Linked DNA regions of Homo sapiens. The protein of the gene in region 1 purifies or fractionates together with the protein of each later gene. This does not show direct contact. Each region holds a gene or a part of one and is shown in the gene's direction. Other genes may lie near its edges. The genes, in order: DKKL1, CD109, XPR1, AMD1, RAD51B, DENND11 and TGFBR3.

The links.
Region 2: the proteins of DKKL1 (region 1) and CD109 purify together in Homo sapiens (co-immunoprecipitation; 2 studies listed by BioGRID and IntAct, with this or other methods). This does not show direct contact.
Region 3: the proteins of DKKL1 (region 1) and XPR1 purify together in Homo sapiens (affinity purification with mass spectrometry; 2 studies listed by BioGRID and IntAct, with this or other methods). This does not show direct contact.
Region 4: the proteins of DKKL1 (region 1) and AMD1 purify together in Homo sapiens (affinity purification with mass spectrometry; 2 studies listed by BioGRID and IntAct, with this or other methods). This does not show direct contact.
Region 5: the proteins of DKKL1 (region 1) and RAD51B purify together in Homo sapiens (affinity purification with mass spectrometry; 2 studies listed by BioGRID and IntAct, with this or other methods). This does not show direct contact.
Region 6: the proteins of DKKL1 (region 1) and DENND11 purify together in Homo sapiens (co-immunoprecipitation; 3 studies listed by BioGRID and IntAct, with this or other methods). This does not show direct contact.
Region 7: the proteins of DKKL1 (region 1) and TGFBR3 purify together in Homo sapiens (affinity purification with mass spectrometry; 2 studies listed by BioGRID and IntAct, with this or other methods). This does not show direct contact.

The regions. Positions count from the first base shown.
Region 1 is NC_000019.10:49,362,466-49,366,676, forward strand, and holds the start of DKKL1 (dickkopf-like protein 1 isoform 1 precursor), read left to right. Parts: upstream 1-1,411; 5' UTR 1,412-1,533; coding exon 1,534-1,543; intron 1,544-1,568; exon of another isoform or gene 1,569-1,598; coding exon of another isoform or gene 1,599-1,653; intron 1,654-2,116; coding exon 2,117-2,289; intron 2,290-3,043; coding exon 3,044-3,184; intron 3,185-3,327; coding exon 3,328-3,420; intron 3,421-4,211. UniProt on the Homo sapiens protein: Involved in fertilization by facilitating sperm penetration of the zona pellucida. May promote spermatocyte apoptosis, thereby limiting sperm production. In adults, may reduce testosterone synthesis in Leydig cells.
Region 2 is NC_000006.12:73,762,203-73,765,702, forward strand, and holds part of CD109 (CD109 antigen isoform 1 preproprotein), read left to right. Parts: intron 1-181; coding exon 182-278; intron 279-538; coding exon 539-680; intron 681-1,373; coding exon 1,374-1,483; intron 1,484-3,500. UniProt on the Homo sapiens protein: Modulates negatively TGFB1 signaling in keratinocytes.
Region 3 is NC_000001.11:180,887,022-180,890,779, forward strand, and holds the end of XPR1 (solute carrier family 53 member 1), read left to right. Parts: 3' UTR 1-3,258; downstream 3,259-3,758. UniProt on the Homo sapiens protein: Inorganic ion transporter that mediates phosphate ion export across plasma membrane.
Region 4 is NC_000006.12:110,881,285-110,884,784, forward strand, and holds part of AMD1 (S-adenosylmethionine decarboxylase proenzyme), read left to right. Parts: intron 1-3,500.
Region 5 is NC_000014.9:67,885,779-67,889,278, forward strand, and holds part of RAD51B (DNA repair protein RAD51 homolog 2), read left to right. Parts: intron 1-90; coding exon 91-210; intron 211-1,242; coding exon 1,243-1,426; intron 1,427-3,500. UniProt on the Homo sapiens protein: Involved in the homologous recombination repair (HRR) pathway of double-stranded DNA breaks arising during DNA replication or induced by DNA-damaging agents. May promote the assembly of presynaptic RAD51 nucleoprotein filaments.
Region 6 is NC_000007.14:141,685,167-141,688,666, reverse strand, and holds part of DENND11 (DENN domain-containing protein 11), read left to right. Parts: intron 1-2,008; coding exon 2,009-2,108; intron 2,109-3,030; coding exon 3,031-3,189; intron 3,190-3,500.
Region 7 is NC_000001.11:91,711,652-91,715,151, reverse strand, and holds part of TGFBR3 (transforming growth factor beta receptor type 3 isoform a precursor), read left to right. Parts: intron 1-2,609; coding exon 2,610-2,909; intron 2,910-3,500. UniProt on the Homo sapiens protein: Cell surface receptor that regulates diverse cellular processes including cell proliferation, differentiation, migration, and apoptosis.

The DNA.
Region 1 (4,211 bases):
GAGGGGGGGGCGGGCCCGGCCGGCGGACAGCGGGAAGGGGGATCCGACGGTGACAGTTTGGGGAAGGATTTTTGCTTTGGGAGAGATTAGTCTATCTCGGGGCTGGTAGGAACTCAGGATTTGGGTGCTTGGGAAAGGAGGGGGATTGGGGGTTCGGACTCCAAGTCGGAGGGAAAAGGCTGATAGGAGCCAGAAACCCCTGATCTGAGGGAGGAGAGGCTGGGGGCTGGGACTCCTGGGTCTGGGGGCTGGGACTCCTGGGTCTGGGAGAGGAAGCGGCTGGAGAGAGATATGGGCTCCTAGGTCTGAGAGGGGACGGGGCTAGGCGCCTGGAATCCCGGCTACCCTCGTGTTTGTGTATTGGGGGTGCGGAAGTGATACGAATACAAAGAGTCTTTACTGTTAAGCCCTGAGGTTTTTTTTCTTTTTTTCTGTTTGGTTTTTGGTTTTTTTGTTTTTTGTTTTTTTTGTTTTTTTTTTTTTTTGAGGATTGGGGTCTGGGGATGGGTTTTGACTGATTCCTATGACGACCTGGTTTCCTTGTGACCTCACCACAGTTAAGAGTCGTGGGCAGGACCACCGGGAGTTTATTGGAGGCCCACGTAGGTGCAGATTCCTCATCTACAGGCGCTAGTGGACTGGAGACGGCTGGCGGCTGTCCCGGGACGGGGAAGAGAGCTTTGGTGCCTGAGGGAAGATGGCTTAGGGCCCGGTCCCTTAAGGGTGAAAGGCTGCGTGTTCAAAATTACGGGACTAGAGGGGGCGGGAGTCCGGACCTGAGGTCCTCAGGGAAAAGGAAGTCTGATTCTGGGTTCCTTGGAAGATGAAATATAAGACTGGATTTAGGGTTTCCGGAGACAACGGGACTTTTTAGTGGAGCGGGAGCGGGAAAACCAGAAGGGACACGGAGAAAAGGTTCCGAAACAGATACACAATTAGAGTGAGAGCTAAAAGGGATGCTTGTACTCCGGTGTCTCCAGTAGGAGGAGCCTAGGACTGGAACTTGGGGTGATGAGGGCAAGATCTGGGACGCAGGGGCGTGGTCCAGTGCAGGGGCGTGGCCCAGTGCAGGGGCGTGGCTTTCAGCCAAGGGGCGTGGCCATTGCGATTGGGCGGGACTCCGAAACGAGGGCCGCAATCAGAGAACACCGCCAGGACTTCCAGGACTTGGTCTCCAGGACTGAGGTCAACTGACGTGGGCGTGGTCTGACTGTGTGGGCGTGGCCAGGGAATGAACTCACGGCTCTGGCTTAAGGGGTGTGGTGAACGAAGGATGGGGCGTGGCTGTGTCACCAAGGGCGTGGTCATGGAGTAGAGGCCCGGGCTCCTGGGTGAGGCCGGCAAGTTTGGAGCGTGGTCAGACAATAGGGGCGTGGCTACGGCTCGCGGAGCGCAACCAACGCTCTAGACCAGACCTGGGCTCGAGACCATAACTGTTTGGCTTTAACAGTACGTGGGCGGCCGGAATCCGGGAGTCCGGTGACCCGGGCTGTGGTCTAGCATAAAGGCGGAGCCCAGAAGAAGGGGCGGGGTATGGGAGAAGGTGAGGATTGAGATCTGGTGGTGAACGTGGGCGAAAGTGAGGAAAAGACCATTGGATGAGGCCGGGTGCTGTGGCTTACGCCTGCAATCCCAACACTTTGGGAGGCCCAGGTGGGCGGATCGCTTGAGATCAGGAGTTCGAGACCAGCCTGGGCAATATGTCGAAACCCTGTCTCTACAAAAAATACAAAAATTAGCCGGGCGTGGAGGCGCGCGCCTGTGGTCCCAGCTACTTCGGGGGGCTGAGGTGGGAGAATCACCTGAGCCCGGGGAGGTCGAGGCTGCAGTGAGCCGTGATTGTGCCACTGTACTCCAGCCTGGACTACAGAGTCTCGGTCTCAAAAAAAAAAAAAAAAAAGCATATGAGACAGAACCCAGAAGAGCCAGACCTGGGAGAAGACGGGGCCTGGCAAGGTGGAGGGTGTGGGAGTAGAAGAAAGAAGCAGTGGGGGAAATGAGCGCGGTGTGGGAGTTGCCTGAACTGGGGAGGCGACCTGGGCAAGGTGCTGGAGAGGGGCGTCTTGGGTGGGGGCGTGGCCACTGTGCGGGGCTCTGACCCCGACCCTTGCCACAGCCTCCCCACCTGCCCCCGCAAGGCGGCATCTGCTGGTCCTGCTGCTGCTCCTCTCTACCCTGGTGATCCCCTCCGCTGCAGCTCCTATCCATGATGCTGACGCCCAAGAGAGCTCCTTGGGTCTCACAGGCCTCCAGAGCCTACTCCAAGGCTTCAGCCGACTTTTCCTGAAAGTAAGCGATGGCGGGGGGATGGGGGAAGAAGTACTGAGAAGAGGTTCAGGGACACAGAGTGGGAGATGGTTCAGGGCCAGGCAGGGGGACAGACAGGATGAGAGGGCAACAGGGAGACCAAGAGATAGGAAGAGGGAAGGGACTGGGCCCAGGCTATAATCACAGCACTTTGGGAGGCTGAGGCAGAAGGATCATTGGAGCCCAGTACTTGGAGACCAGCCTGGGTAACATAGTGAGACCCTCATCTGTACAAAAAAATATAAAAAATAGTTGCAGGTACATGCGCCTATAATCCCAGCTGCTTGGGAGGCTGAGGCAGAAGGATCCCTTGAGCCCAGGAGGTCGAGGCTGCAGTAAGCCATGATAGCACCACTGCACTCCAGCCTGGATGACAGAACAAGGAGACCCTGTCTCTAAACAAATAAATATATACGTGCATAAATAAGAGAGGAAAGGTAACAGGCAAAGAGAGAGGAGATGGGACAGAGACAAGAGACTGGGGAAAGAGACAGGAGGAGAGGGGGATGGGGACAGAAGAGGAACAGGGATAGTAAGGCAATGGGACTGAGAATAGAGAGAGAATTCATGGGGGATGGAGGCCGGAGGTTAGGCCCTAAGTATCAGAGGGCAGAAAGTAAAGGGGATGGGAGGGACTTGGGGCAAGGCCTCGGGAGCATCCTAGCAGGGCTGCAGAAGGGGCTGTACTGAGGAGATGTGAGGTCCAGCAGCTCACCAGTCCCTCCTCCGGCCCCAGGGTAACCTGCTTCGGGGCATAGACAGCTTATTCTCTGCCCCCATGGACTTCCGGGGCCTCCCTGGGAACTACCACAAAGAGGAGAACCAGGAGCACCAGCTGGGGAACAACACCCTCTCCAGCCACCTCCAGATCGACAAGGTGCCTATGCAGGGAAGCCCTTCCTGAAGTCCCCTTGGGATCCCTCCATCCCGCCATCCCTCGTGCTGCAGTATCTGTTGGGAGGGAAGGAGGGCGGAGGAGGAAAGCAGGTTTGCTCTCACTCTCTCATCGGATCCTCACAGATGACCGACAACAAGACAGGAGAGGTGCTGATCTCCGAGAATGTGGTGGCATCCATTCAACCAGCGGAGGGGAGCTTCGAGGGTGATTTGAAGGTTAGGACGTGCCCCGCCGTCAAAGTGTCCAGGCCCAAACATTTTCTTTTTTTCTTTTTTAAAGAAGAGTCTCACTCTGTCACCCAGGCTGGAGTGCAGTGGCACGATCTTGGCTCACTGCAACCTCCGCCTCCGAAGTTCAGGCAATTCTCCTGCCTCAAGCTCCTTGGTAGCTGGGATTACAGGCACCTGCCACCACGCCCGGCTAATTTTTTGTATTTTTTTAGTAGAGACAGGGTTTCTCCATGTTGGTCAGGCTGGTCTTGAACTCCTGACCTCAAGTGATCTGCCCATCTTGGCCTTCCAAAGTGCTGGGATTACAGGCATGAGCCACCATGCCTGGTGAGGCCCTAACATTTTCTGTAGTTTAGGAGGACAAGAAGAGGAACTGACCCTCTTACTCCTCTGTGTGGAACTTCCTCCTTCTGAGCCTCAGTTTTGCCATCTCTCAAGTGGGGCAATCCAACTGTCAGAAATGAGATTTTTGACCTCAGAATACATCTGCAAGGGTTTAGTAGACCCTAGAGGGTTTTGTATCAAAGTGGTTTTCTTTTTTTTTTTTAACTACATAATAGTCAATCAAAGTGTTTCTATGAGCACCAAAATGTTTTATAAACCAAGAAGGGTTTTTAATTCTAAGTGCTTGGAAAGCTTCACCCTCATAAACCCCAAATTGTGTTTTTGTCTCAAAGTAAGTGCTCTGCAAACTTCAGAGTATTTTTCAATCTATCCCAAAGTGGTTGGTAAACCTCTCCATTATAAACTCCAAAATGTTTTTGTTGTTATTGTGG
Region 2 (3,500 bases), on another chromosome or scaffold:
CACCCGCCTCGGCCTCCCAAAGTGCTGGGATTACAGGCGTGAGCCACCGCTCCCAGCCCAATGTAATTTTTTAAAATGTTAGATTGCTAATTGCTAATGTATGCTATTGAAAGTAGTATTTTTATTGTGTTCTGACAATATCAAGTTGATACATAAAAAGACTATGTTTATAATTATTCAGGTATACATATGGGAAGCCAGTGAAAGGAGACGTAACGCTTACATTTTTACCTTTATCCTTTTGGGGAAAGAAGAAAAATATTACAAAAACATTTAAGGTAACTTTTGCAGACACTTTATAACTTGTGATGGGTAAAATATGTGTATTTTTCTAGAAATAAGATTTAGTACTGAATTAACAAAAAGTTAAGTGTAAGAAAATCAAGAGCTTTCCAGCATTGAACAAATGAGAATTTATGCAATTATAGCGATTAAAATGGTACCAGAGCTATCATATTGTTGTGACTTAGTTTGAGTTTTATTTCTAAAATTTGAATTGCTAAAATGGTAAATAATACTGAACTTTTAAACAAAACAGATAAATGGATCTGCAAACTTCTCTTTTAATGATGAAGAGATGAAAAATGTAATGGATTCTTCAAATGGACTTTCTGAATACCTGGATCTATCTTCCCCTGGACCAGTAGAAATTTTAACCACAGTGACAGAATCAGTTACAGGTTTGTAGACTTTAAAGTGGAGGTAAAACTATTCATGTGACACTGCTTTATCATCTTTCTTATTATAACTGGCACTTTCATTTGGGAGCATCATTGACTTTCTAAAGATGCTATTTAATGTTGAAATTGTTATGACTGTTAGTCTAAGTTGCAGGATGATTTTATAAGGGGGACCTTATTTTCTATGAAAGTCACTACTTCAACCACATGTGATAGCTCTTCTTAATTTTTTTTTCCATTTCTACTCTTTCCCCCTGAAAACTACATGGAAAGGCTTACATTTTCAGCTGGTAACCTTCTTCTTTTTAAAATCACTGAAATCTCAGCTGTTCCTAGACAGTTTTCACTTTTAATAAGAAAATAAAGTTGAGTTTCTTGGACCTTTCTGTTACTATTTCAACAACTTTAGCCAATCCCTGAAAGAGCAAAAGACTATTCTTTCATTGGCCTTAATTTGCTGCTGTTGTACATGTCACTGCGGTAGAATGGCAGCAATGGTGCTTAGAGGGGATCCATAGAGAACATAATAGAACTGTGTGGTGCTTGTAGTGTCAAAGTCAATATGGGAATGAGGCTTATGTGCCCTGATATTTTTAACCCTTTTTGCAATAGGTTAGATGGAGAGATTTGGTGGATAGAAGCTTTGGGTGAAACATTACTTTTGCTTTCTAAATTGTGCAATTTCCAAAAAAGGTATTTCAAGAAATGTAAGCACTAATGTGTTCTTCAAGCAACATGATTACATCATTGAGTTTTTTGATTATACTACTGTCTTGAAGCCATCTCTCAACTTCACAGCCACTGTAAGTTGGTATATTTATTTCCAGTCCATAGCAGTAAGTTCAGCTTAATGAAATAGAATGGGAAATAATATTTTCAATGCTTTTCTAAAAATTTAAGCCAAAAAGTATATAACTTTGTCTCTTTAGACATGTGGGGCATGTAGATTTGTTTCCAAATGACCTTTGTCTATTTTTTCTAAAAAAGTAGTTTTCAACAACAGTAAAAATATTTTTTGAAAATGTATTTTTTTTTACAAGCAATTTAAGTTAGATGTGGATTGCTACACTGAAGCTTTTATTAATTAATTGAAATAATTACATGGTAGTCAAAAATTTCAATTTCAATTTGGTTTTTATAATGATTAATTGTAGTTCTAACAAAGATGTTACATTAAAAAATTATCAACAAATCTCATTTTTTGGAGATAATGTTGAATTAACACATTAATTGTGTGAATGTTGACAATGAGCAAGGCATGGTGTTGGGCAGGGCTATAGAGCCAAGAAGGGCTCAGTCCCTACCCTCAGGTTCACAGTTTTTGTGATGGTGACAGGAAAATATATACTTAACTATAACTCATGGCAGATTAAGATTAGTGTTACAAATTAATTTCTGTAGGGATTTAAAGCAGGGGTTGCCAAACTTTTTCTGCAAAGGGCTAGAGAGTAAATATTTTCAGCTTTGTGGCCATGTGGTCTTTGTCACAGCTACTCAGCCCTGCCATTGTAGTGTGAAAGCAGCCATAGCCAATTTATAAATAAGTGAGAGTGGAATGTGTTCCAGTAAAACTTTGTTTACAAACATACTGGATTGGCCTATCAGCTTGCAGTAGTTGGCTGATCTCTGATTTAAAGAAAGGAGGAGTCAGGCCTGGCGTGGTGGCTCATGCCTGTAATCCCAGCACTTTGGGAGGCCGAGGCAGGCGGATCACCTGAGGTTAGGAGTTCGAGACCAGCCTGACCAACATGGAGAAACCCCATCTCCACTAAAAACACAAAAAATTAGGCGGGCGTGGTGGCACATGCCTGTAATTCCAACTACTCGGGAGGCTGAGGCAGAAGAATCGCTTGAACCCGGGAGGCGGAGGTTGTGGTGAGTGGAGATTGCGCCATTGCACTCCAGCCTGGGCAACAAAAGTGGAACTCCATTTCAAAAAAAAAAAAAAAAACAACTAAAACGACAAAGAAAGAATGGAGGGGTCACTTGTTGAATGGGTCGGTAGACGTTTCAGGTAGTTTCTGATTTCAATGATCTTAATTTAGGCAGTTTGAAAAGGTCAGTTTAAAAAATTGAGGCTGCAAATGGTAATTTCTGAATGAGTAGAGTGAAACCATGGGCGTTCAGAGGGGGAGAGTTGGCTGTGGGATAGGCATGGGGGTTACTATGGGATGCTTTATGGAAGAGGATGGTCTAAACTGTTTTTTAAAAGATTAGTTGTGTTTTAAATGCTTGGGCATGGGAGTGGGAGGTGGGGAGCAAGATAAGAAGTGAGACAAGAAGGAGAGGTCTGGCTGGCAATTTCGGGGTGCACTCAGGTAGTGTTTGAGGGAGACTGCTCAGGCTGTGTGCAGGAGGATGGCTGTAGCCCAGGAGTGAGGGGATGGGCAGCCTTGTGGTGGTAGCTGTGGGAGTGGAGAGGATGGAAGAGAGAAGCATAGGACTTTGGTGTTCATTGGATTTGGGGGGTGGGGAGAGGGAGGGAAAATTCAGAAATGTAAAGTCTTGCAAAATCCTGATGTTAGCGAAAATAGGAAAATGACATGGTTGCTCATTTTAGATATGTGAATTCAAGGTGTCCAGGATATCCAAGTAGAAATTTCCTGCAGGTAACTGGAGGTGTTGGGCATGAACTCCAGAGAAGGGCAAGGATGGGAATTTTGGCTTTAGGGTACAATCACAGAGATGACAAGCTAAGCAATAGGATTGCTGAGACCTTGGAGGAAGGGAGAAGAACAGATGTCCAAAATTCCCACATTTAGGGAGAGGAAAGAGGAACTGAAAAGGACACTGAGAGGATGCAGAAAGAGAGGTAGGAAG
Region 3 (3,758 bases), on another chromosome or scaffold:
ATTAGCTGGGCGTGGTGGCGCATGCCTGTAATCCCAGCTACTCAGGAGACTGAGGCAGGAGAATTGCTTAAACCTGGGAAGCAGAGGTTGCAGTGAGACTAGATCATGCCACTGCACTCCACTGCCACTGCCTGGGCAACAGAGCAAGACTCCATCTCAAAAACAAACAAAAAAAATCACAGACTCATTTTAAAGGAGCAGCAACCTAACCAAATACAAACTTCATTTGATTTTAGGTTTAGAAATTCTAGTTTTATTTTGGAGAATCACTCAGTTTTTAATATCAATTAAAATAGTCCTCAAAGGAATGAAGAGGAAGTCTAAATAAATGAATAAAACTCATTTTTCATTTTATGGTAGTATAGAAAGCATTGATGTGTGTAGAGAAATTAAAAGACAAGAGTGGTTTACTGTCTATGCACAAATGAGTGCCTATATTTAAGGCTGCCTATACCATTACAGTGGCGTAATTGGTGATTTCATAGCATACAGAGAAACAATGAAATCAAAGATTAAATCATTAGGTTATGATGGTCATTTGTAAGATTGGAAAGTAGTCAAAAACCCATGTGCAACTTTTTTTCAGCACTCTACCATTAGGCTCCTTAGGCAAGCTGCTTAACTTCCGTCAGAAGCAAAGGTGTGGGAGAACACCATTCACCTCAGTAGTAACTTATAAAAACCGTTTAAAGAAGGAAAATGGGCCCCAGCCCCTAGGATCCCTGACTTCCTGATATTCTAAACATGAGAGTTCTGTGACTTTAACTGAGCTCTTTACCAGAAGTAACGTGTTGATGTATATTATCTTTCCACCATGCTTTGACCAAAGTACATTCACAGTAACTAGAGAAAGCAGATCATCCATTTCTGGATAGGTGAACTACGGCAAGGTAAGAACAGAAAAAAGTAAAGTAGTATTGAGTCATGCAGGTATCAGATTAACAGACATTCATTGAAGATAAGTGAAATAACTTTGGAGATAGCAGAGAAGAGCAAGAAGATGTTGGACGTTGGCAGTAAGCCGCAGCAAGGCAGTTAGGAAAGTACGTGAGCCTGATGACGCGAAGGTGATGCCTCCATCTGTCCGCTTAGTGGTTATTAAATTGCTGGGAAAGACCTGCCTTTATTTTCCTATCATCTTTTCCCCATTACTTTGCATTATTCAGGAAATAATTATTTATTCCCAAATGCAGTTTTCTAAGCAGTGACCACAAAAATTTCTTATTCTAAGGAAAATAATTAAGAAAATAACCCTATCTGTGGCATTGTTTTAAAATGTGGGATACAAATCTGGTAAGCAGATTTCAGGTCATTATTGTTTTCTTTTAATGGTTTACATGAAATTTTCCTCTCAAAAAACAAGTACCTCTTACTGTATAACATTTGAGTTTTTAAAATTGAGATAGCTTCTGAGAGAAAAAAAGAAAGTTGAATTTGTAGCTCTCTCAACTACAAAATCACCACACTTTTCTCAAATCTAATAGGAATTCAGTGTCATTACAGATACGGTCTCTAGTGACCAGGTGAAGACAATTGAAGCTTTGGTAGAACTTCTGCAAAAGTTAGGTAAAGAAGAATAAATCCAATTTATCAGCTTTGTTCATATTCTTTTTCTGAGTGATCTAAATTTTTCTTGCTTGTGATCATTAGCTAAGACAAGGAGTGTTAAAGGTTTTCTAAATGCAAACACATACGTTTCTGCATTTCAGAAGTCAGTCTTGATAGTAAATCCTACAAACTCTCAACTTTCTGCATTGTATTTTAAGTCTATACAATGTTAGAGCACATGGTAATGTGGGACAGAGTTGATTATATGATAGCATGAGAAATTTGCACTGGTTGGTGTTACAAACCAATGATCTAACCAGCATACTCTCCAAATATGAAAAAGTAAAAACATCTCATTAGGTTTGGAAGAGCCTAAGGTAGTCCATACAGGAAGTTTGCCTGAGAACAGAGAGGAGCCTGTTGATTGGCATGGCTCATGATGCCTTTCTTGTATGAATTATCAAAACTGATACTGAGTTGCCCCTAGAAAACAGCCTTCCAGAATATGTTTGCTTATTTATGGTGGAAGAGGAAGTGAGAACAAGATGAGAGTTTCCCTTAAAGTGAGGAGAATCATTATACAACTTTGCAACTGAAGTATGTTTCCTTGTAGCAAACCTTTGGTTTATTTTATCGTCAAATCAAAGCCACCCTCAGTTTTTTGTATGGTGCCATCAACCTAAGGAGGACAATCAAATAACCTATTGTTTGCCTTGGATTCAGTATATCTACTAAGTACACAGTCTCGTATACCTTCAAACCAGTTACTTGACTAAACTTCCACCATATTACCTTAGTTCTTCCTATGCCCTTTCCTCTGTGCCACCACAAATCAGAGGGAAAGACTGCAGTACTTCTAGAAAGTTGTGGACTTCTAAGAAAGAGCCAGGCTTCCATCTCACTATCCCTTGATCATTATCTCTGAAGTCCCTACCTGCACTTCCCTGATTGCCCTGTAGCAACACCAGCATGGTGGGAATTGGAGGGAAAGATTGTGGAAAATCCCTAAAGGGTCATTGTTCATGACGTTATTTTGAATTGTAAAATTGTGAGCCACTCACATTTCAATTACAAAAAGAACAGAACTCTTAATCACGTTGTGAAGATTAATTTCTTGCCATTTTCTGGATTAGCACAGAAGCTTGTATCAATGAAGAGTATTTAGGAGGGGAATAGGGGGAAAATTGTATTTTTCTGTTCAAACTCTCTCCTTCTATTTGTGTTTCCTTCACCCCTCTCCCTCCACCACACTGTGTTGGTCAAATGATACTATTCTATGAAACCCTGAGCTATAGTTGTCAAAAGTAACTATGGATTGTGATTAGTCCTCTGTGGGTGCTTCCTTCCCTCTTTTTTCTCCCTCACTCTCTTTCTCAGTCTCCACTCTGGTAAATGGAAAAGGTGATGTCGAAGAATTGATGCTTGCTTGGACTCATGTTGTATCTGTGACTATGCTATTAGCTGTCTCCTTTTTCCTTCCTATATGGGTAGAATTCTTATGACTTATGAAGTTCCCTTCTTGATAAGTAGGTTAAATGCACAATGTGGTACTGTTTTATAGTTTCTAGATGGTTGTATAAAGCAAAAAGTTAATGTGGTTATGTGTTTTTAAAGAAAATAAGTGATTGGTCACTAAACTCTGTCCTTTTTTCATTATTACAATTTCTCTCTGTTTTCCAACAGTTTGCTGACTCCTTTGTCACTGGTGAATGGTTTGTGTGACTGTTTTTCTCTCTTGGTTTCTTGAATTCCTGAACATAGTTCCCCTTAGGACTAATTTTCATATGGGGTTAGGGCAAACAGACTACAGTGGTGAAATTTTTAAACTATCCTACTAAGTTAAAAGAAGTTTAAATGGCTTTTATCTTCAGGTAATATGTGAGGTGTGACTCTAAAGCAATGGGATTGTTGTAACAAATCTTTCTTTTACTCGCACAAAGAATCTCAAATATTACAAATATGAGGTGAAATGATGTGTCCAATTACATTTTGGAGAGGTGGACACTGCTATCACTGCATACCCATGCCCTGTGAGGGAACATAGGACTTTTCTGCAGAATTCCTGGACTAATTATTATTCCTTATATATATCTAGGAAAGATTACAAAATTAACTGACCCTAAGATGAATATACCCACAATGCAAAGGGAAAAATAATTTATTGACTAAAGCATCAAAGCCTTTCATCTTACTTTGGTGCCACAAACTCT
Region 4 (3,500 bases), on another chromosome or scaffold:
TAGCAGTGTCCCTGGCCTCTATCCACTGCATGCTGGCAACACCACCACCACCCCAGTTGTGATAAAAAATGTCTCCAAATGTTGCCACATGTCTTCTGGGTGGCAAAATTACTACAAGTTGAGAACCACTGAGTTAGATCAGAGAGGTGGCATTTAAGATGAGAAAAAGGAATTCAAATCAGGAAATACTCAATCTACATATTTCTTTGTGTTTTATAACCACCTAAGAATTGTGTGCTTCGGGCCAGGCATGGTGGTGCATGCCTGTAATCCCAAATCCCAGCACTTTGGGAGGCCGAGGCGGGTGGATTGCTTGAGGTCAGGAGTTCGAGACCAGCCTGGCCAGCATGGTGAAACACCTTCTCTACTAAAAATACAAAAAAAAAATTAGCCTGACATGGTGGCAGATGCCTGTAATCAGTCCCAACTACTCGGGAGGCTGGGGCAGGAGACTTGCTTGAACCTGGGAGGCGGAGTTTGCAGTGAGCTGATAGCATACCACTGCACTCCAGCCTAGGTGACAGAACAAGACTGCATCTCAAAAAAAAAAAAAATTGTGTGCTTGAATAGCTTTATAATAATTTCTAATGACTAGATCAGTATTACGTGAGCTGTAATGTGAACAAATCCCAAAATCATCTTGCTATCTTGCTTCTCTTGATTCTGCTTTATATCCATCAATTTGATTTATTGACTCTTTAAATAGCAAGGATTGCCAAATAGATCAGTTTTATAAATAGTTTATAATAGACTAGTGCTTCAAAGTCTCAGTTTGTAGTGTACTTGGGAGTGAAGCAGAGACAAGACCACTATCACTACTGAGCCTGATAAAACATTCTAGCTTAATACTATCTTTTCTATTTTTGACACACAGTCTCACTCTGTCGCCCAGGCTGGTGTGCAGTGGCACGATCTTGGCTCACTGCAACCTAATTTTAAAAATGGCTCTGTCGACTGTATAAAGCACTTTGTCTTTTCCATCATTAATTTGATCAGAAAGCAGACCACTGAAAACCTTTCCTCCAAAACAAGAGTCAGCAAACTTTCTGTAAAGGACTAGGGAGTAAATTTTAAATTTTGCAAGGCAGACAGTCTGTTGCAATTACTCAGCTCTGCCCTTATAGGGAGAAAATAACCATAGTCAATGTATAAATGAATGGGTGTGGCTAGGTTCCAGTAGAGCTTTATTTACAAAAGCAGGCCATTTTTTCCCACAGAAATGTGATAGAAATAATTTGTGCTGAAATTTTCAGCTGTTGCAGAGTTTTTCACCTCTTTTATGTACATGTATAGCATTGTATTGACTACTTTTTTCTTTCGTCTATTTTGCCCTCTGATTTATTTTTCTTGAGCTTAGTAGCTCTGGTAAATGCCTTTATCATCACTAGGTTGATAGACAGTTTAACTGTTTGTCCTAGGTTGCTTAAAGTAATTGCTTTCTTTTGATACTATGATTGAAAAATTCTGATTACCGGAGCATTACTATTAGTTGAGGAAAGGTTTGAATGGAGAATTTTATTAACTGATGATGAGTGAGTATAAGAGCATTTTGAAGCCAATGGGTTGGCACGTGCCTATAATCCTAGCACTTTGGGAAGCTGAGATGGGAGGATCTCATTAGCCCAGGAGTTTGAGACCAACCTGGGCAACATAGGGAGACCTCATCTCTACAAAACAATTAAAAATATATTAGTAAGGTGTAGTGATACATGCCCTGTGGTCCCAGCTACTTGGGAGGCTGAGGTGGGAGGATCTCTTTGAGCATGGGAGGCCAAGGCTGCAGTGAGCTGTGATTGTGCCATTGTTCTCCAGCCTGGGTGACAGTGAGACTGGCTCAGAAAACAAAAGGTTATTTCTCTGCCATTACAGAAGAAGCATGCTACACTGTCTTCTCTTATTAAAATGCAATTAATAAACCCTGGACAGAATGCATTGTTGAGCAGCTATCCAAGGACTCTGAGAAGTAAATTTTAGCAGGTGAAATGGAGAAGAAAGCCAGAACTTTAAATTCCACTGAACCAGCAGTGAATTTCCTGTTTTTTTTCCCCTGTGGTATCTCCTCGCTGATTTCTCCTGGGCTTGCCAGAAACCCAGAACTGAAAAGTAGGGGCAGGCAAAAATAGTTCCAAGAAAGGCTCTCTAGTTCTCCTCTGCAAAGAAAGAATGAGAGGCCCCTTTGAATCAGAGTGGAAGAAATCTCTTTTTTGCTTTTGTTTTGTTCTATTCTGCCCCAATCCTCTTGTAGGCCTTTAGCAGCTGTGGCAGTTAGGCAGATGTCTAAAACAACGAGAGAAGGGAATCATTTTTTGTTTGTTGTTTGTTTTTGAGACAGAGTCTTGCTCTGTAGCCAGGGCTGGAGTGCAGTGACACGATCTCGGCTCACTGCAAGCTCCGCCTTCCGGGTTCATGCCATTCTCCCGCCGCAGCCACCCAAGTAGCTGGGACTACAGGTGCCCGCCACCATGCCCAGCTAATTTTTTTTTTTTTTATTTTTAGTAGAGACGGGGTTTCACCTTGTTAGCCAGGATGGTCTTGATCTCCTGACCTTGTGATCCTCCTGCCTCCCAGAGTGCTGGGATTACAGGCGTGAGCCACTGCGCCCGGCCAAAGCCCTATTTTTATAGGTAGTGGATGAAGAAGAGTCCTTCCCCTATCCCCTATGTGAGTCAGGCATTGTCAGAGAGATTATGGAAGGTTGAAGAAAGTAAACCTATAAAGTTTTATATGAACACTCCTTAGCCATTTTGCATGGATCTGACCCTAAACAGCACATCAGAGGCTTTGAAAACTAGAATACACAATAGACTGCCTCTCCAGGGCCAGCCTGGCCATTGGGTGGCAAATAAGTGGGGCAGATGCAAATAACATAGCAAAGGAGTTCATAACAAACCTGACACTGGAACCATAACACAACCTAGAAACATTGAGTAAAAACTTGAAGCCTAAACCAAACCAGATTGTCTGCTGAAAGTTTTTAAAAATCAAGACCTAGAATGATGTAACATGTCAAAATATCCAGGATGCCATCCTAAATTAGTCAACATACTCAAAACCAGGAAAATCTTAACATCTCAAAGGAAAAGACAGCAGACACCAACCTCAAGGTGACATGGACCAAGACTTTAAAGTATCTGTGCTACAAGTTGTAAGGGTGAATACTTTGTTTTAAGAGAGGGTCTTGCTCTGTTACCCTGGCTGGAGTGTAGCGGTGTGATCATGGTTCACTGCACCCTCCATCTCCTGGGCTCAAGCAAACTTCCCACATCAGCCTACCGAGTAGCTGGGACTACAGACCTGCACCACCACTCCCAGCTGCCTTTTTTCTTTTTAAGAGACTGGCTATTGCTATGTTGCCCAGGCTGGTCTTGAACTTCTGGTCTCGTGATCCTTCCTTCTTGGCCTCTGAACCACAGTGCCTGGCCACAACAGCCTTTAAAAAAAGAGAAAACAAAAATAAGAAAGGAAAAGACTGTTACACTGTTTAGTTCAGCCATGGAACG
Region 5 (3,500 bases), on another chromosome or scaffold:
AGTTTCTCAAGTAAAATTAATTAGAGATTCAGCAATGTGGCTTTAAGTAGAATTGACTGTTTTCGTTTGTGCTATTTTTTTCACCCACAGACTGGTTGAAATAGCAGAATCCCGTTTTCCCAGATATTTTAACACTGAAGAAAAGTTACTTTTGACAAGTAGTAAAGTTCATCTTTATCGGGAACTCACCTGTGATGAAGTTCTACAAAGGTATGCTGCTTTAGATTTTGATTTTTTAGTAATGCGTTGAAGGTTTATGTTTTATCTTTTATGTTTCAGCTTCTAAGTGAAAAAAGTCTTTATAGGTTAGAATTATGTGGAGTAACTTTTTCAGTGTTCTTCTTTGTTATAGCCTTTTGGTTGAAGTCTTTCTTGAAAAACAAAAAAAATTAAATGAATAAAATGTTCTGTATTTAATTAATTAAGTGGTGTATTATTTATCTATTGTTTCATTAACAAATTGTCTCACAGTTTAGTAGCTTAAAACAGCAAATACATATTATTTCACATAGTTTCTGAGGGTTAAGTGTCTGGGAGTAGCTTAGCTGGGTGTTTCTGGCTCAATGTCGCTCAAGAGGTTATAGTCAAGCTGGTGGCCAGGGCTGCAGTTATCTTAAGGCTTGACTGGAGCTGGAGTACCTGCTTCCAAGCTCCCTAATATAGTTGTTGGAAGCCCTCTGTTTCTTGCTGGCAGTGGGCAAGAGACCTTTGTTCCTTACCGTCTGGGCCTCTCCATAAATCACAACATAGCAAGTTGCTTTCCTCAGAGTAAGTGACCTGAGAGACTGGGCAAGTGAAAGAGTACCCAAGATGGAAGCTGTAGTCTTTTATAACCCACACTCAGAAATAAGGTACCATGATCTTGTCATATGCTTGTGGTCATACAGATCAAGTCTGGCACACTGTGGGAGGGACCTATACAAGGATGCAAAATACCAAGAGGAGGGAGTAAGTGTGGGCCATTTTGCAGACTGGCTACCACAAGTAGTTTTACCCCAGAATTGGAGCGTTAACATTATCTTAGGAGAATCAAGGAATTCTGAAACTACACAGAAACAGTTTGCTCTGTTTCCAGAAAAGTATGATATGTCTACAAGTTAGGTTTACTGAATTCTTGCAAATCATTACTGTAACTTAGGAAAGAATAGTTTATTGTTTTTAAGTTGCTTAGCCTTTGCAATACCTTTATTTATTTATTTTATCTTAAATTTATTGACTATTTTATAAATTCTTCTTTTATAGGATTGAATCTTTGGAAGAAGAAATTATCTCAAAAGGAATTAAACTTGTGATTCTTGACTCTGTTGCTTCTGTGGTCAGAAAGGAGTTTGATGCACAACTTCAAGGCAATCTCAAAGAAAGAAACAAGTTCTTGGCAAGAGAGGCATCCTCCTTGAAGTATTTGGCTGAGGAGTTTTCAATCCCAGTAAGTTTTTCTTTTTTTCTCTTTTTTCTTTTCCTTTCTTTTGTTTCTTTTATATTACATTCACTGACTTATGGTATCAAATAATAAAATTAGAGGAAAATGTAAAACAGATGACTTTTTAAAGGTAGTACAGTCTAATTGCTATAGCAAACATCGCCATCATCTTAAATTAGCTCATCTGCTGAGATTATTTTATTATTTTAATAATTTGAGTCTGGAGTAGATTTAAACGATGTTTTTAAAAGTTCCTATAGTCCCTCCTTTTCTTCCTTCTCATTGTTTACTCTTTGTGTGTGCTTTGTATCACATTTCTCACACTGCAGTAAATATAAAGTAGTAAAACTTCATGAAATTGCCTAGATCTATTTCTATATAATTAAAAAAAATACTGCAGTTGTTGTTAGTTTTGTTTTAAGTATTTTAGGTTTAGATACTGTGTTATTGTGTTCAGCGCTGTTTTGTGTACAATAGGATTTGGTTTGCTTCAAATGGTCAGAGGTCAACCATTAAGAGATGTTGGAATGATAGTAATGAAAGTGTCAGTAAGAAAACCTTGAAAGATTATTTGTGGCATGGCTTTTTGTAGCGGGCATTGTGATCAGAAATCTGAAGATGACAGGCTATTACAAGGGCTTGTGATGTGTAACCTGCAAGACGTAAGTGTGTACTAAGTTACACTCCCATCTGCAGTGTGTCAGGGAGTTTTAGTCGTTGTTCCACAGCCTCATCAACATTCAGGCTTCTCAATTTTAGTCATGCTTCATCTCAAGAAAAGATAGTTCCTTAAACTGAGATAAAATTTGGTTATGATTTTATAATTTTTAGATTTGTTTTTGGAAAATTAAAATCTTGGATCTTTGCAACATAAAGAATATGTATAAATAATATAAACTATCACACAGCCTTTGAGGTTTATAAAACCAAGGAAGAAGTCAAGGGAGAAAATATGACATTCAAAAAGTTCTGCATACTTTAATGGCTTTTTAGTTTATATTTTGAATTAAAGTCAAGTGCTGTTAAGTTTGTCTTGGGTGATGTTCATCTTTTACATTTTATTGTAGTTGGTTAAAATGATAAATTCAAATTTATATTTTTCCTGATCAAGGAGAATAAGGGAACTTTGAAATACTGTATAAAGATACTTGATTGAATAGAAAGTTATGTATATAGTTGGCCCTCTGTATCTGTGGGTTCTGCATCCATGGATTCAACCAACTAAAGATAGGAGATATTTGAAAAAGCAATGGGTGTGGTAGTGTGCCCCTGCAGTCTCAGCTACTCAAGAGGCTGAGGTGGGAGGATCACTTAGGCGCAGGAGGTTGAGGTTGCATTGAGCCATGTTCATGTCACTGCACTTCAGCCTGGGAGACAGAGTGAGACCCTCTCTCTAAAAATATATATATATATTTGAAAGAAAAGAAAAGGATAGTTGTCTTTGTACTGAACATGTACAGACTTTTTTCTTGTCATGATTCCCTATAGTTAAGCAGAGATTTACATAGCATGTACATTGTATTGGGTATTATAAGTAATGTAAAGTTGATTTAAAGTATACCAGAGAATGTACATAGATTATGTGCAAACACTGCACCATTTTATATGAGGGACTTGAGCATCCGTGGATTATGGTATCTGCAGAGGAGTCCTGGAACCAATCCCCCATGGATACAGGGGGATGACTATATATTCTTATTTTATTATTAATTCATACTGTTGCTTGACTTAATTCCGTGCAAAATAAAATTCACTTTTTAAATGTTGTGTTTGTTTGCTTTTAAGTAGTAACTGTAGGCTAATGCTTTTCAGTTTTTCCTAAGGTGATTTATTTTCCCAAGTGAGAAAGGGGCACTGCTTTTCTTTGTTTTTAATAGAACCCTCTGAAAAAATAGGTACTGAATATCCCATTTCTATGCCTTTGGCTTTGTTTCTCTATTTAGAAATAAATGCAGATTATACTATGTACTTATATAACTGTGATATCTGTTTTTTGTGACAATTAAGATTGTAAGATTGGTTTTAAAAGGATTTTGAAAAATATTTCCTTTAGAAAATGTTGGAATTTTCCTAGCTAAAT
Region 6 (3,500 bases), on another chromosome or scaffold:
ATATAGGAAAGCGTGGGGGAACTTGGTGCTTAAAAAACTCGTCTTATCCCCAAGGTCACCCCTCTTTCTTTCTGAGTGCTTTTTCTTATCTTTGACCCTGACAAACATAACATTGTTCGAGGCTTTCTGCTTTATGAACTCTTAATTCCTTTTTCATGCTTTTCACTTTAGTGAATTGACTAAATGATCAGAATCATAATTCCTCTTTTGAAAATAAACTATTTGAAAGTGACTTGGGCTGTTGAGTGTGAGATTCGACAATGCTCTATGATATCTACCATGTCCTGAGACTAGATTGTGTATTCCCTGATGCCCTGAACAATTATCTGAAAGCGTTGTTTGGCTGGGATCATTGATGGTTTTTCTAATGCCTAGCAAATTAGGATTTGGAGTGTTAATAAGAAGTTTGTTCTGAAATGAAATCTCACAAATAGCTTAGTGTTTTGCTTTAAACCCTTTTGAATATGCATGAAAACAACAGGGAGTATTCTATAGTGTTCTCTCAAGACTCTAGATAACACTGCTATTGTGTAGTTCCCTGATTCCCGCAGCCCGAGGCATGCTTGTACTTTTAAAATCCTACTTTGGCCTAGAGCGGTGGCTCACACCTGTAATCCCAACACTTTGGGAGGCCGAGGCAGGTGGATCACCTGAGGTCAGGAGTTGAAGACCAGCCTGGGCAACTTGGTGAAACCCCATCTCTACTAAAAATACAAAAAAAATAGCTGGGCATGGCCGGGTGCGGTGGCTCACGCCTGTAATCCCAGCACTTTGGGAGGCTGAGGTGGGCGGATCACAAGGTCAGGAGATTGAGACCATCCTGGCTAACATGGTGAAACCCCGTCTCCACTAAAAATACAAAAAATTAGCCGGGCCTGGTGGCAGGTGCCTGTAGTCCCAGCTACTGGGGAGGCTGAGGCGGGAGAATGGCATGAACCTGGGAGGCGGAGCTTGCATTGAGCCGAGATCGCGCCACTGCACTCCAGCCTGGGTGACAAGAGCAAGACTCTGTCTCAAAAAAAAAAAAAAAAAAAATTAGCCGAGTGTGCTGGTATGCGCCTGTAATCCCAGCTACGTGGGAGGCTGAGGCAGGAGAATCGCCTTGAACCTGGGAGGTGGAGCTTGCAGTGACCCGAGATTGTGCCACTGCACTCCAGCCTGGGCGACAAAGTGAAACTCAGTCTCGAGAAAAAAAAAAAAAAATCGCACCTTATCCTCTGTCATAACATTGATCCCACTGCACTGTAACTGCTGATCTCCTCTAGCTCTCCTCATTTCTCTCTGGAATCTAATCTCACTGAGGTCAGGGACTTTGTATCTCCAGCATCTAGCTCAGGAGAAACTGAATAATCAATGATGAGTGAATGAGTCCCAAAATTCTGGAAGCAAATATCATTGTCCCTTGAAGAAGGACCTCACTTAGAGAGGAGAGAGAGAGGAGGGGAAACAGAGTTACATTGGTCAGAGAGGTAGGAAAAGCACTAAAATAGTATTCTATCATGAAAATCCAGGAAAAAGAGGAGAAATGTTTGAGGAATTAGCAAATGCTACCTAGAGGTAAACGAGAATGAGAATTTAAAAAATGTTTTGGGATTTTTTCCCAGTCATTAGTGGCTATAGATAGAATCAAGATCTCAAGGGATTAAGGGGAGAACACAAGATAAGGAAATGAGGGTGGAAGGTTAAAAAAACATGCAGAGAAGTGAGGCTACAAAAAGCAGATTTGGAAGTGGTTGAGCAGAATGACAGAAGCAAACGCAGCATCCTCATGAGGGAGGAGAACAGTGTTTGAGGGCAGAAATGGGAGGTTCTTTTAGTGTCCACCTCCACGTCCTCCGGCGTCACCCCTGCCAGTGATGGAGGGGCTGAGCTCTGAGCATCTCGCTGGTCTGTCTGAGGCTGAGTCAGCAGTCGGTTTATTGAAAAGCCATGTGTGCTAAGCCCTGTACTAACCCATTTTCTTTGAATGATGTTGTTTCTTTTAACTTGCATCTTCCTTTTCCTGCAGGAAACATGGTAGAATGGTGCTTACCTCAAGATATTGACCTTGAAGGTGTTGAGTTCAAGTCTATGGCCAGTGGGTCCCATAAAATCCAATCTGATTTCATGTAAGTACTTCTGAACTGGAGTCATCTTCGTACCATTCCCCCCACCTCCACACTTTCCCCAAAGCTGAAGGGCTCTTATTAGGAGGTCTTCGTGTGCTGTGTGTAAATGCCTTGAAAATACATGGATAGTTTTGTGTTTACATCATTTTTCTAGTGAGATGTCTAGCTTTCATCAGATTCTCAATGGGCTTCATGACCTGCAAATCTTAAGAATCCCTGCCTGTAGAGGTTCTCTCACTTTCTCAGAAATTACATGGACCTCACTTGAGGTTTGGTTTTAATGAAAGTGCACAGTTTCAGCCCCGTGTGAGTTAACTGAGGATATCTATGTGTTCAACCTTGAAATTTCAGCTTTAAGTAAGGCCATTTTTTAGTCCTGTGTAGTGGGGCATTCAGAGAGTTTTGCGAGAAGGAACAATGGAAAGAGCTTAAGGGTAATGAAGTGGCTTTAATCTCCTCATGGGGCTTAATTCATGATTGATACAAGTGTGAGAAGAGGAGGAAATAAAATGGCAGCTCAGTGAAAAATATCAGAGCCTCAGGAAGTAAGGGAAGAATCACTGTGGTTTATGCTACGAAAGAGAGTCCAAGTTCCAGAGGAGCCTGAAGAGGAATGTTGGTTCTGCTTCACCCATCCAAGTCATTAGTCGTGGTGCAGGAGAGAAGAGATGTGTCCATGATTGTGGGCAGCTGAGCGGCAGGCTTGCCACGGACTAAGTCCCAGCTCCAGCCAAGTGACCCTTGGCAAGTTATGTAATCTCTTCAAGCTCATCAGTGAGGTCATGTGGCTTGGCCCGCTTGTTTTCTTGAGGCTGAGCTTTGTCATTGACAGCCCCGAACACAGTTCATTTGTTTTGTTTAGGATTGCATCTCAAAATTCCTCTCTGATCTTGAGCCACACTACGTATTTGGTCTCTTCTAGCTATTTCCGAAAGGGGCCCTTCTTCGGCCTGGCCTGCTTTGCCAACATGCCCGTGGAGAGCGAGCTGGAACGTGGCGCGCGGATGAAGTCTGTGGGCATCCTCTCTCCCTCCTACACACTGCTTTACCGCTACATGCACTTCTTGGAGAACCAGGTTCGGTACGTGGCTTCCGTACATGTGCAGGGAGGCAGCAGGATCCACCAGCTGGTGCATATGGCACGAGCCCTCGGAGACAGCATTTGCGTGCCAGAGCAGCAGATGTCTTTCCAAGAACATCCATGGCGATGTTTCACGCCTCGGGTGGTGTCCTTTCGTTTCAGCCAACGTCCTGCATGATGAGTCTTCACTCTATAATGAAAGCTGGGGTATATTCTGCCTTCAGTTTGGATTTAATACTACCATCACTTTTTAAAATTAAGTCATTTTTTGACAGGTACATGATCTTTGTTTATGCAAAGCCGCAATAGTT
Region 7 (3,500 bases), on another chromosome or scaffold:
ATATCATCTGTTGGTCTTATGGGAAGGTCCTCATCTAATGAGCTGGTTTTGGTGCTCAGCTGCAAGCTCAGCTTCATAGTGGGAGGGGTGAGAAGCTTAAAGGGTCAAAGTGGGGTACTTCCATATGTTAAAAGTGACTTTGGTGCACGTGTTTCTGTTTTGGAAAGACACATAACTCTCACATTCGCACTGACTCTGGGACAGAGCCCGCTGGCGCTAGATGTTGTTTTCCTTGATCATATGGATTCTGCCCCTCCCCCATTCTGAGAGTTCTCTTTCTTTGAGCACACCTTCTTTCTCCATTGGGGAAAATATACTGCCTTCTACATGCTTTTCCTAAGCCAAGATGGCTGTTTTTCTCTTGCTTTTCTGGCTGTACAGTTCACATGGGCAGTTGGTCAACAGCACCCTATTGCGCTGTGGATTTCAGGGGTGCTGCATAATTGCAGATTGTTCTTTTCCAAATCTATGCCTGGCTTTGCTGATTTATGCTAATCAGTGGTCAATCTTCCTCCTGTACCTTACCCTGGATATTTTGGGTTTTTTCCCCCATCCTTCAAATGCTGGCTTACTTGAAGTGTGTTATTGGTAGTTTTTTTTTTCCATTCTTGTTTTCCCATTTATACCTTTTCATATATCACCTATATTTCTCATAGTTTATCCTCTATTCCCTCTACACCATACAGTCCCTTTCATAATCCAAGTTAACAGTGTTGCCACCTGTTCATTGGTCATCTCCAGGTGACTGTTGGTCACATAATGGCAGTTTTCTTTTGGTTCATTTGTCTTGGGGAATTTACAAACCCAGTTGTTAATAACCCAAAATTTTAAATCTAGAATACTACTATTACTAATAGGTAGCATTTATTGACACTCTGGGAACTGTGTTGTTTGCATGTAACTTTTACTTTGCTAGTTTTCACAATTATGATATCTTGTGGGTATTCGTGTTCTCATTCTGTAGGTGAGTAAACTGAGTCTCGGTGCCCAGCACGTGAGCAGGAGAGCATGTAATTTTTATGAGCTCGTCTCACTACAAAGCCCGTAGTCCTTCTCCTACTCACTTCTGGTCTAAAAGTAAAATCCTTTTTAGTAAAAGATTTGCTGATAATTTATATATATAAACTATATATACATAAAATATATTAAAAAATAATATATATTTTTTCCCTCTGCTACAAAGGTATCCCTTTTTGGGATACCTTAGACATTCTGCCGCTACATACTTTCTTTTGAGATTAGAGAAGAGATTTGCAGTCCCTCTGTTACACATTTTGGCATGTGGTTTCTGAGTTCATGTTAAACGGCAGTTTTTAGTAATAGCACATATGTAATTTGCCACCTTTCCAAGATAGAATATCTTGTTTTTCAGAAGTATTGCAAAAATACTGAAGTGTTAGTATTTACAGAATGTCACCACAGTGACATTATCAGAATCCTCTTCATTAGCATTTTCACTGTTGAGTGTCCTGCAGTTAACCACCACGTAGGAATCTTTCACAACAGTGCTGCGGATTCAAAGCCCCATGTGATGTCAGGGGTTTCCCCTGGGTATCTCAGCGTGGAAAGTCTGTTTCTATCTCCATGTCTTTTGAAATGATTCTGCGGCTGTTGGTCTATGGGTAAGGACTAGCTGTTTCTACAAGTGTTTAAGTTTATTTTGATCCTAAATTTAGTCAAAGAATGAGGCATAGCAGGGAGGGGCAGTTCATGCAGTGATCCACGTGTCACCAAATGGAGAATCTCCTCTGGTCTGGGGATTTTAGCTAAGTTCAGGATAGTTGAGGTTTGAATTCTGTTTACACTTGGCTAAACATTACTTCCTGTTTCTAAGGAAAAGAACCTTAACAAAATTTGGACGTAGCCCATACAAGTGTTTTCAAAGGGGGAAGTATAAATGAGTCGGAAACGTTTCCAGATTAGATTTCCCCTAAACTACCCCTGGGCTTATGGAGCGAAGGGGGAGTACTTGGCAAGGCTGATTTGGATCTGTGAGCAGCTGGGACACTTTACCAGGCCCATGATGGCCTCCAGGTTGCACCGTCACTGACACCCAGCGCCGGAGCCAGCTCTGCCTTCTCGCCGATGAAGCAGGACTCTCATCAGGCTTACTCTGACTTTTTGCAATTTAGAAGCTCAGTCTTCCTGCCTAGGTTAAATAGATTTTGCCGCTGAACTCTATTTTTTGGTCAGTCTTTAAAAAGAGCTTAGCTTATAAGTGTTGTACTATTAAAACATTAGGGACTTTGCCTACTGGTGTTTTATTTACTTCGGAAAATCCACTTTAAATGCAAAATATGTTTTTATTTTTAGCTCTCAGAGGACTCATTGGGAGGTGGAAGAGACTTACTCATCTTGTATTTGAATCTAATGGACTAATATTTGAAAGAAATAATTCACTGTCATCATCTATATCAAATTGAAGTGGAAAATATCTTTTTCTTTCAATGTGTGTGTGTTACTTTTGTAATTAGAAAGAAGGCTATAACTATGTTATGAAGATAAAGCAGCGTGTCATCTGAAGGGCTGTCTTGGCATATGGTCCTTGTGCCTAAAGTGAAAGTGAGATGCTAACTCATTTCCTAATTCATCTTTCTGTTCTTTCATAGGTATCTGTTACTAAGGCTGAACAAGAACTGGGATTTGCCATCCAAACGTGCTTTATCTCTCCATATTCGAACCCTGATAGGATGTCTCATTACACCATTATTGAGAATATTTGTCCTAAAGATGAATCTGTGAAATTCTACAGTCCCAAGAGAGTGCACTTTCCTATCCCGCAAGCTGACATGGATAAGAAGCGATTCAGCTTTGTCTTCAAGCCTGTCTTCAACACCTCACTGCTCTTTCTACAGTGTGAGCTGACGCTGTGTACGAAGATGGAGAAGCACCCCCAGAAGTTGCCTAAGGTTTGTGGGCCTTCATCCATTCGGATGGTTATTTTGGCATTTTTAGGTGAGGCAGAAAAGTTTAATCCCAAGGTCTTGCAGGTTGAGGTTTTTTGTTTTGGAACTGCCCAACTGAAATATTAAAGTCACTATTAGCAGGGAACTGTGAGTTTTATGGAGTCTTAGATAATAAATCCTGACAGCATGAGTTTCTTTTTTCCATGCGTGCTACTTAGTAGTACCTTACGAGTGATAAATCAAGACGCTTTTCCATGGAGGGAGATTTCTGGCTTTATCTTTGCTTTTCAGATAGTTTGCAGGCCAAAAACACAGCAAGCCGAAAGGACAAGTTCATTGTGAGAATTAATTTTTCCAGGTCCTGCTGGGACTGGCATTGTCATTGTTTTTTAACCTTTTCTGTGTGAAATATAAGGTTGACTTGTCTCAGGGAGACTTCTAGGGGAAACTAACAAATATTTTAGCTTTTCTCAGTTTCATATCAGTTCATCATATTTGCCTCCTGTCACTCTCCAGATTGAATGTTCTATTGCCATAACAAAAAGCAGAACCATTTGACCTTGGTGGAATGCATTTGATAGGGGAGATCTGCAA